3 linked regions of the Homo sapiens genome follow. The protein of the gene in region 1 interacts with the protein of each later gene in a pairwise test. Each region holds a gene or a part of one and is shown on either strand. Other genes may lie near its edges.

Region 1 (3,500 bases):
TGACCTTTGATGCCCTTTGGCTCTATTCCCATGGCAACCTGCACACATGTTTCTTGCTCTTAGAGGGAAGAGGAAATCCTAGGGCTAGAATATAAAGCTACATAGAAGTTATCCTGGGAAGAAGATGGGCATACCCAGATGGTTCTCTCACCAAGAGGGTCCCAGGAGTGACAACAGGATGAGAAAGTAATCAAGGCAGAAGCCACCCTGACGTGTGTTGGGGACTCAAGAGGCCTAATATTACTGGGAGGTGGCAGGTAGAAACTGAGAGGTAGGGTGTGAGGATGAGGAAGACTGTCAGCATTGCAGAGGGCTTGGACATTAACCTCAGGAGCCGTGGACCAGCAGATCCAGTCTGTATGCCATGGGCACAAGAGCAACAGAGCTGCTGCCAGCACTATCACCCCACGCCATATCTTCAAACACACAGGAACCATGATTCTGTTCCTCACAGACTCTCTCATAATGAATAAAAATTTTATTTCAATGCACTACTGAAGTCACAGAGCTTTTAAAATATAAAGTAATAACATGTACTTCATTGAAAAAAATAAAATTGTCGCAAGGCTTATAATGATAAATAGCACTCCTCCTAAGCCTCTCCTTCCCATCCCTAATCTCCACTCCCAGGGAACATTAAACTCCTCTAGCTGTTTCTTCTGATATTTAACCTCATTTTTCTAGATAAGATGCTTATAGTTCTATTCCTTGACTTTCAACTTTGGAATTCTTTTATTCTACCCCTAAAACACAAACTCATCCCCTCCCACCTTTCCAGTACAGGTAAATCATAAGTTTTAGTTAAAGTAATACTCAGTGTGTACATAATTATATCATGTGTTACACCTGAGCCATCTAGTAGATTATACTTACATTTCCTTTCTTGTACAACTTTTTTTCCCCTGAATTCAGCAACTGCCTTGTTTTCTTTTCCATTTGCTTAATTATCTGCAAACCTATCACTATTTATCTTCAAAACTCTCCAAGGGGGCTACACACTCATCTCCTTACAAACACTTCCTGTCATATCCTGGTTTGAGCCTCTCCGAGGCTCACCACAACTGCTCCCAGGATAAGGCTCAAGCTTGAGCCTCTGCAGTTTGGTCCCAGCCTCCAGCCTCATCTTCTGGCCCCTGTGCCACAGGCCTCCCTTTCTTCAAGTGACAAGGGAGCCAGCCCCCACACCCGTATGCTGGTTTTAGCCTGTGCCTCCATCCATATGGGCCTTGTTTGCCTGAGACACTCTTTCCCCTCACTGCTTCCAGCTCTCCACTCTGCTCCCTCAGAAGCCTTGCCAGAGGGTCCTGGACCTATGGTGCTTATGCAGCTATTCGTCCTCAGGCCTTCTTCAGCTTCCTGTGTATCTCTGAGTGTTTCCAACCAGCTGCCTTGGCATTTACCAGCTGCATGGACATTACATGGCTGGATGGTAATAACAGCAGAAAAAAACCTAAGAAGGGAGACAGTCTCAGCAAATTTGGCAGCAGTTGCCTCCCAGCTCAGAATCTAAGGCCAATAAGCAAAGCCCAAGCTGAGGCCACCAACACCAACACTACCCCTTAAGACACTCACCCCACTTGCAGCCCACAAGCACAGGGCAGGCAGCATGTCTTGTTCGGTAGTCACCTTCCCCGCTCCGCAAGAGGTTGTACCAGAACACAGCTGTACCCTGGGAAAGAGATGGCCTTTCAGAACACATTCTTAAGAGACTGTGCTCAGGGACCTGACTGCAAGCATCACAGAAGCTCTGCCCTGAGCAGAAACACCCTCATTTTCCCATGGACAGGGGATAGGGCTCTGGGACTCCAGCAACAGAGACATTTCCCAGAAAGCACCTACCTTTCTGAGGTAGAAGTCTGGGAACTCACCCGCCCCTGAAGGGACTTCCCTCCCTGTCCTTTCTTCACAGGGAGAAGCTGGGCTACCAGGTCAGACCCCAGGTGGGCTAAGGCACATCACAGTGACAATCAGGCAGGCCAGGTAATGGTACTGGGGGACATGGACAAAGTAAAGTCTGAGCCTTGCTTCAACCTCTGACCCACAAGAATCAGAACTTACCTTCTTAGGCCAAATTGCAGCCCCCAGATCAGGGAAGACGGTGGCACCACCAGCTTCTACATCACTCATCTGGAAATATAAGACATAGAGCTTGACCCTCCTACCCAAGGCTCTCAGAGCAATTGAGCCACAAAGGACATGACAAGGTATATAGATTGCCCTCCTCTCAGCATGAGTGACACTACTTGGTGTCTGCTCCATGGCCAGCCCTTTAGCCAAGAAAGGCTCTTCCCATGCCTACTTAACCAGTGTGATTCATTAGAACAGTCTCCATGTCATGAGTGTTCAAGAGTTGAGGCCCACAGGAGACCCACATCCGGGCTGTCCCTGGATGAAAATAATCTGAGTCTGTACTCAGAAAATGCCTGTTCTGACCCCACCCTTTGAATCCCCATCTAGCCTTGGCCTTGCCTAAGCCACTGTACTCTGCAAAGTGCCCTGACCAGGAGCTCTGTACTGTTTCCAACACCATGTGCAGTCCCCACTGCAGCTCTGTTTCTCTGGCTCTAGTAGTTTGCTGCTCTAGTCAGACCTTCACCTTCCCAGAGTAGCCACCCTTCCTGGGGCCAACTGAGTGGAAGGGTGGGGCACTGTGTCTCTAGAGGCCCTGCTTTCTCCTATGGTAAGGCCTTAAACTACATTGAACACAAGTTCCACACTAGCAAGGCTGTACTCATGCCCACAGAGCATGCCTTGACTCATGGCCAAAGCACTACTTCTTTCCCATCTGGCTCTCTTACTTTTTTTGTCCATAATTTAATAAAAATTGGAGGTAAAAAATATTTCCACAGGACACATACCAGACTCACTGAAGGGTACTTGACAGACATATGGTAAATGAATAAGACAAAAGCTCTGATGGCTTCTCACAGCCCTGTGGATCAAACTCAGATTCTTTTCTAGAACCCCAAGGCCCTGTCAGTCTCACTAGCCTCTCTCCAGACACACCAGCCTTTTTCTACCTTTCCAACATCCCAAGTTCCTTTTCTCTTACAGGACTACATACACTCTCTCTTCTGCCAGAAACCATGTTCTACCAGCTAATTTCCACTCAACTTTTAAGTCTCAACTGATATGTTACTTCCAAAGAGAGGCCTCCACTGAACCCCAAGCCTGGGGTTCACAGCACCTGTCTCCATAACTACATAATAATCTCTCTGATGTTTAGGCTGGGCATGGTGGCTCACGCCTGTAATGCCAGCACTTTGGGAGGCCAAGGCGGGTGGATCACTTGAGGTCAGGAGCTTGAGACCAGTCTGGCCAAGATGGTGAAACCTCATCTCTACTAAAAATACAAAAATTAGCTGGGCATGGTGGTGCACGCCTATAATCCCAGCTACTTGGGAGGCTGAGGCAGGAGAATCGCTTGAACCTGGGAGGCAGAGTTTGCAGTAAGCTGAGATAGCGCCACTGCACTCCAGCCTGGGCAACAGAGGGAGAGT
Region 2 (3,500 bases), on another chromosome or scaffold:
GAGCGATGGTGAGAGCCTCCTCGCTTTCTGCAAAGACAGGTCAGGGGTTGAGACAGGGTCCAAAAGAAGTGAGGAGGTCAGGGGCCTGTGAGGACAAGATCATGGCAGCCATCTAAGAGGTGGGGGGGCGAGGAGGGGATGAAGAGATCAAAAGGGTTGCAAACTAAGCATTTAGGGAGCCCAAAGTGGCCTGTTTGCCTAATTACGGTAATCACACCTGGTTTGAGTCACTTCCTGGAGATGGGGGTGGAGGTGGGAGATCTTCAAAGGGATTCATGAGGCCTGTTCCTGTGAGAGGGGTCCATTCACTCCACCCCCGCCCCTTTGGGGGGCCTGTTTCTTTGCCTTGGCTCAGAACTGGGAGGTGCAGATGGGGCCTCGGACTCTACAGACAGCCCAGCCTCCTGCCAGAAGAAATCTGCGGGTGAGTGGTACAGGAAGGGAGGCGCCAAGCTTGGCTGTGCCCCAAGAGGGCACCTCCCAACCCTGCACACACGCACGCATGCACGCACACACGCACAGGCACACACGTGTTTCCCATCTCAGCTTTGTTTCTGCATCTTTAACAAGGTGCCACACCCGCTCCCCATCACCCCTGTAAAACAGAAGATGAGAGGCCAGCAGGGAAGTGGGGCAGGGTGGGGGGTGGGGGGAGTGGCAGAACTTACAGTCCCTCCTGCACACACATGGGCATGTGCACACGTGCTAGGGTCTCTCTAGGTCTGAGAAACCTGCCCTAGAGGTGGTTCTGGGTCTGGGATCCTCTATGGGGTGTCAGGTCTAAGTCCTGGAGCCTTCACCAGGGGAAAGGTCCCTGACCCACACTCCCAGAGGCCAGCACACATCAGCACTTGTCTCAGTGACTGTTCCTGCTCTATGCCCTGAGCACGAACAATTTCCTTCCCCATTCTTGTCTTCTGTCCCTACCGTTGCCAATGAACCAAGACCTTGAAGATGGAGGTGTGGGGAGGAGAGCAGCCGTTAAGTGTGGACAGAAGGATGTTTTCCTGGGCACCTCTACACACAGGGCAACATCCCCTCCCCTGCCCCATGCTGGAGGGCCAGGGGCCAGGGCGATGCAAAGCCACAGAAGATCCCAAAGCCCTCTGGGGTTGGCCTCAAACTGTGATCACCCACACACCCACTTTCTGTTGGGTGGCGGCTCTAAGAGGAGCTCCACTGGATTCCTGAACAGGAGACTCACCCCCTCCCCTGGCCCTGGGCAGAGGGAGAACCTGGGCCCTGGGTCAGTGGCCCCAGCGCAGTGTCTGCCTCCCACAGGCTGCCACACCCTGTACCTGAGCTCAGTGAGCGTGGAGACCCTGACTGGAGCCCTGGCCGTGCAGAAAGCCATCTCCACCACCTTTGAGAGGGACATCCTCCCCACGCCCACCGTGGTCCACTTCAAAGTCACAGAGCAGGGCATCACTCTGACTGATGTCCAGAGGAAGTAAGGGCCTTCCCTTGCCCTGGGGCTCCGGGGCTGGCGGAGTAGAGCTGGAGGGGATAGCTGAGACAGCTGCAGATCAGGGATGAAGGTCAAGTTCAGGGTTCTGGATGACCCAGCGGGGCCAGTGATGTGCTGAGTGACTCCAGGCAGCTTCCCTGCCTCCTCCAGGCCTCACTCCACTGCCAAAGCCCCTGTTCATCATGACTGATGAAAATGGAGTTAACGGGGGCCGGGCACGGTGGCTCATGCCTGTAATCCCAGCACTTTGGGAGGCCGAGGCGGGCGGATCACCTGAGGTCAGGAGTTCGAGACCAGCCTGGTCAACATGATGAAACCCCGTCTCTACTAAAAATACAAAATTAGCCGGGCATGGTGGCACGCACCTGTAATCCCAGCTACTTGGGAGGCTGAGGCAGGAGAATTGCTTGAACCCAGGAGGCGGAGGTTGTAGTGAGCTGAGAGCACGCCATTGCACTCCAACCTGGGTGACAGAGTGAAACTCCATCTCAAAAAAGGAAGGAAGGAAGGAAGGAAATGGAGTTAACTAGTATTCATGGGTGCCGATTATGCCTGCACCCATTGATGGAACATCTTCCCTCGGCCAGACTGGCTGACCACTGGGACCCAGAGAGGAATGAGATCGTTCCTTCCCCAGGCTCGGATCTCACAGTCTAACAGGAGCCTGATCCAGGGCTGAGCACTTCACAGGGAGAAACAAGAGATGACCAAGATGTAATTCGTGTCCTCAAAAAGTTAGTGGCCAAAAAAAATTAAATGGCGTGGTAGGGGTGTGATAGAAAACCCCAGAGTGTAAGACAGAGGCAGACAAGCCCCATGAGAGGAGAGAGGCAGGAGCGGGGCGCCAGGGCCCCCCAGTGGGAAAGGCCATAGCGGTCTTCAAGGTCTAACCCAGAGACTTCTTGGAGGACAGGGCACCTGAGCTTGGGGGGAACGAGAGATGCTGGAGGCAGGATGACACTGGGACAGGCTGTCATCGCTTCCCTTCTCTCCCCGCCTCCTCCTAGGGTGTTTTTCCGGCGCCATTACCCACTCACCACCCTCCGCTTCTGTGGTATGGACCCTGAGCAACGGAAGTAAGTTCAAGGCTGGGCCAAACTAAGAAGGCTGTCCAGGGCCCCGCTGCCCACCAAGGCGTCCTGCCGACTCTGGGCCTGGGATCCCAGAGGGAGCCTGTGAACCTCAAGGGGTCAGGGTGACAGAATGAGGGTAGGGTGGGGCATGGTGGGGTGGGGACGCAGCTGGCCAGTCCTGCTGCTCCTCCAGGGTCCTGTGGCATGGAGCGAAGCCTCATTACTCGGTATCATGTTCTTTTCCTACAGGTGGCAGAAGTACTGCAAACCCTCCTGGTAAGGCCTTCCTGTCTCAGGGCCCCAAACCCAACATGGGGAGGGAACTGCAGAAGGAAAGAGGCACCATTCTGACTTTAATAGTCCAAAGTGTTGATGAGGGCACAGGCCCTGGTCCTCAGGGAGCTCCCATCTGATGGGAAAGACTTTGACTGCCCTCAGAGCCTCTGGGCTGTTGGGGGTGACATGAGCCTGGGAGCCCTCAATCTTCTGCAAGAGGCACAGGCTCTAACTTCAGGGAGCCTCAAGCTATTGGAATGTCCCAGTCTGATGATCAAGATGCATCCTTGCCCTCAGGGAGCTTCCACTCTAATGGGGAATGCACAGGTCCTGTCCTCAAGGAGCCCTCACTCAAAACAAAGGAAACCCAGAGCTTGAACTCAGAAATCTCCCAGTCTGACGGGAGAGGCATCTCCTTCCCCAGGGAGCCCCACCATAAGGAGGTGCTGGAGTCAATTGGCTAAGGGAGGGGCAGGGAGGAATGAGATGCAGGCTGAGGGCCCCCCACCACCCCATTCCCACCAGCCTGATGCCTCCCTGGGTCCCACCCCTCACTCAGACTGCCCTCCCCCACCAGGATCTTTGGGTTTGTGGCCAAGAGCCAGACAGAGCCTCAGGAGAACGTATGCCACCTCTTTGCGGAGTATGACATGGTCCAGCCAGCCTCGCAGGTCATCGGCCTG
Region 3 (3,500 bases), on another chromosome or scaffold:
TTCTTTGCTCATAGGATTATTTTGAAGACCAAGTAAGATGATGAAAGTGAAAGCACTCTGTAAAGTATAAACCGCTATGCAAGAATAGTTCCACAGATAATTACTGAGTAATTTCTTTGCATCAGTGCCGTGAAAAACTCTGAGGATTTGAAATTTGGCTAGGAAGGTATTCCAAAATAATTTCTATTATTTTTCATTAAATCTTAATATTTTCAGAGGATTAGCACATTTGAGGAATTGTAAGACACCCAAGGCTTTGATAGATGAATAATAAAAAATAAATAAGAATATGATGAAATTAGTTTCTGTAGAAATCACCTTAAAATAGAACTTCTTCAGGTCAAATATCTAGAAAACCCCATCATCTCAGCCCAAAATCTCCTTAAGCTGATAGGCAACTTCAGCAAAGTCTCAGGATACAAAATCAATGTGCAAAAATCACTAGCATTCTTATACACCAATAACAGACAAACAGAGAGCCAAATCATGAGTGAACTCCCATTCACAATTGCCTCAAAGAAAATAAAATACTTACAAGGGATGTGAAGGACCTCTTCAAGGAGAACTACAAACCACTGCTCAATGAAATAAAAGAGTATACAAACAAATGGAAGAACATTCCATGCTCATGGGTAGGAGGAATCAATATCGTGAAAATGGCCATACTGCCCAAGGTAATTTATAGATTCAATGCCATCCCCATCAAGCTACCAATGACTTTTTTCACTGAATTGGAAAAAAAACTACTTTAAAGTTCATATGGAAGCAAACAAGAGCGTGCATTGCCAACTCAATCCTAAGCCTAAAGAACAAAGCTGGAGGCATCAGACTACCTGACTTCAAACTATACTACAAGGCTGCAGCAACCAAAACAGCATGGTACTGGTACCAAAACAGAGATATAGACCAATGGAACAGAACAGAGCCCTCAGAAATAATGCCACATATCTACAACTATCTGATCTTTGACAAACCTGACAAAAACAAGAAATGGGGAAAGGATTCCATATTTAATAAATGGTGCTGGGAAAACTGGCTAGCCATATGTAGAAAGCTGAAACTGGATCCCTTCCTTACACCTTACACAAAAATTAATTCAAGATGGATGAAAGACTTACATGTTAGACCTAAAACCATAAAAACCCTAGAAGAAAACCTAGGCAATACCATTCAGGACATAGGCATGGGCAAGGACTTCATGTCTAAAACATCAAAAGCATGGCAACAAAAGCCAAAATTGACAAATGGGATCTAATTAAACTAAAGAGCTCCTGCACTGCAAAAGAAACTACCATCAGAGTGAACAGGCAACCTACAGAATAGGAGAAAATTTTTGCAATCTACTCATCTGACAAAGGGCTAATATCCAGAATCTACAATGAACTCAAACAAATTTACAAGAAAAAAAACAAACAACCCCATCAAAAAGTGGGCAAAGGATATGAACAGACACTTCTCAAAAGAAGACATTTATGCAGCCAAAAAACACATGAAAATATGCTCATCATCACTGGCCATCAGAGAAATGCAAATCAAAACCACAATGAGATACCATCTCACACCAGTTAGAATGGCGATCATTAAAAAGTCAGGAAACAACAGGTGCTGGAGAGGATGTGGAGAAATAGGAACACTTTTACACTGTTGGTGGGACTGTAAACTAGTTCAACTATTGTGGAAGTCAGTGTGGTGATTCCTCAGGGATCTAGAACTAGAAATACCATTTGACCCAGCCATCTCATTACTGGATATATACCCAAAGGATTATAAATCATGCTGCTATAAAGACACATGCACACGTATGTTTATTGCGGCACTATTCACAATAACAAAGACTCGGAACCAACCTAAATGTCCAACAATGATAGACTGGATGAAGAAAATGTGGCAGATATACATCATGGAATACTATGCAGCCATAAAAAATGATGAGTTCATGTCCTTTGTAGGGACATGGATGAAGCTGGAAACCATCATTCTCAGCAAGCTATCGCAAGGACAATAAACCAAACACCGCATGTTCTCACTCATAGGTGGGAATTGAAGAATGAGAACACATGGACGCAGGAAGGGGAACATCACACACTGGGGCCTGTGGTGGGTTGGGGGGAGGGGGGAGGGATAGCATTAGGAGGTATACCTAATGCTAAATGATGAGTTAATGGGTGCAGCACACCAACATGTCACATGTATACATATGTAACAAACCTGCACGTTGTGCACATGTACCCTAAAACTTAAAGTATAATAATAATTAAAAAAGAAGACAAAAAAGGGACAAAGGCCAAGAATCTAAGGAAGGTTTGTTTAAATATAAAATAAACTCATAATAATAATGCTAAGAATGATGATAATAGCCACTACCATTTACTTTGTATTTAATAATTACTAGTCACCATGATATGCATTTTTATGTACTGAATCTCATTTCTCACCACAAATTCGAGCAGTAGATATTTTTATTCCATTTTATAAAGGATAAACAGAGGTTCTGAGGAGTTAAATAACTTGTCTAAAACCATATTGCTAGGAAGTAACTGATTTCAAACCCACACTATCCATGTCTCAACGACTGGATGGCGTGGTATAGTGAAAACAGCATGTATCAGAAGTAGGAGTTTGGGATGGGGACTGTGTGGAGGTGTCCTGTGTAAAGAGTCCAGACAGATAAAGCTGATCGGGAGATCCCTAGACTTGCCCATGAGTGAGGACGTCCTGATATATATATATATATAAATTTCTACAGGTAACCATGGGGCAGACTGGCTTTCCAGGTGCCTGCCAAGGCATCAGACCACCCATAGCTCAGCAAATCCAGCTTTTGAAATTACACAGCTCTGACTTAGTGCTCAACAAGCTACTGCCCAATATCAATTTAGTTTCCTGTGTACATTTGTCTCCTGGGAGGGAATATGCCAATCATCTGAACTTATAATTTGAGTACACTTGAACAAAATCACCAAAGATGGATACATAGGTCAAAGTACCAGAGTGAACTGACCTCTTGAGCTCCATCAACTCTGTGTGCCTTGGATACAATTAGCTTTCTGGGTCTTCAAAACTGATGGTGAAATGTGGTCCTTAGGCAGTCCACAAAAATTCAGCCCTCTCAGAGTTTGGGCCTAGGCTATTAGTCAGCCCTTATCTTTATCTTACACGAAATTGAACACAGAACCTACCACTGTTAAAGATTATCATCCAATCACATGGATATTAAATTTTCATGTTGTATCTAGACCTTTTGGCTCATCTTAGTTCAAATGACAAACCACAGTACCATTTAAACACAATAGGATTTTGATTCTCATGCATAAGTGTTTAGGAAGCAGTGTTTCAATTAGTATCACCAATGAAATTTAAAAGAAACAACTAAAATACATATTTTGCTAATGCTTGTGGTGTATCTGGGAGTTCCTTAAATGCTGTTGACTAGTTTGGAAGACAGTGATTGATGCCCTGATCATGAACCTGGGAACATCAGCAGGGTACTCATGGAGCAC

The links. Proteins that work in one complex are often made in the same cells at the same time.
Region 2: the proteins of P4HA2 (region 1) and TNS4 interact in a two-hybrid assay, tested with the Homo sapiens proteins (one large-scale study listed by BioGRID and IntAct).
Region 3: the proteins of P4HA2 (region 1) and CLNK interact in a two-hybrid assay, tested with the Homo sapiens proteins (one large-scale study listed by BioGRID and IntAct).

What each region holds. Positions count from the first base shown.
Region 1 is NC_000005.10:132,193,354-132,196,853, forward strand, and holds part of P4HA2 (prolyl 4-hydroxylase subunit alpha-2 isoform 2 precursor), read right to left. Parts: intron 2,128-3,500; coding exon 2,059-2,127; intron 1,670-2,058; coding exon 1,573-1,669; intron 1-1,572. UniProt on the Homo sapiens protein: Catalyzes the post-translational formation of 4-hydroxyproline in -Xaa-Pro-Gly- sequences in collagens and other proteins.
Region 2 is NC_000017.11:40,477,624-40,481,123, reverse strand, and holds part of TNS4 (tensin-4 precursor), read left to right. Parts: intron 1-355; coding exon 356-424; intron 425-945; coding exon of another isoform or gene 946-1,281; coding exon 1,282-1,450; intron 1,451-2,475; coding exon 2,476-2,544; intron 2,545-2,790; coding exon 2,791-2,817; intron 2,818-3,394; coding exon 3,395-3,500. UniProt on the Homo sapiens protein: Promotes EGF-induced cell migration by displacing tensin TNS3 from the cytoplasmic tail of integrin ITGB1 which results in dissociation of TNS3 from focal adhesions, disassembly of actin stress fibers and initiation of cell migration.
Region 3 is NC_000004.12:10,678,269-10,681,768, forward strand, and holds part of CLNK (cytokine-dependent hematopoietic cell linker), read right to left. Parts: intron 1-3,500. UniProt on the Homo sapiens protein: An adapter protein which plays a role in the regulation of immunoreceptor signaling, including PLC-gamma-mediated B-cell antigen receptor (BCR) signaling and FC-epsilon R1-mediated mast cell degranulation.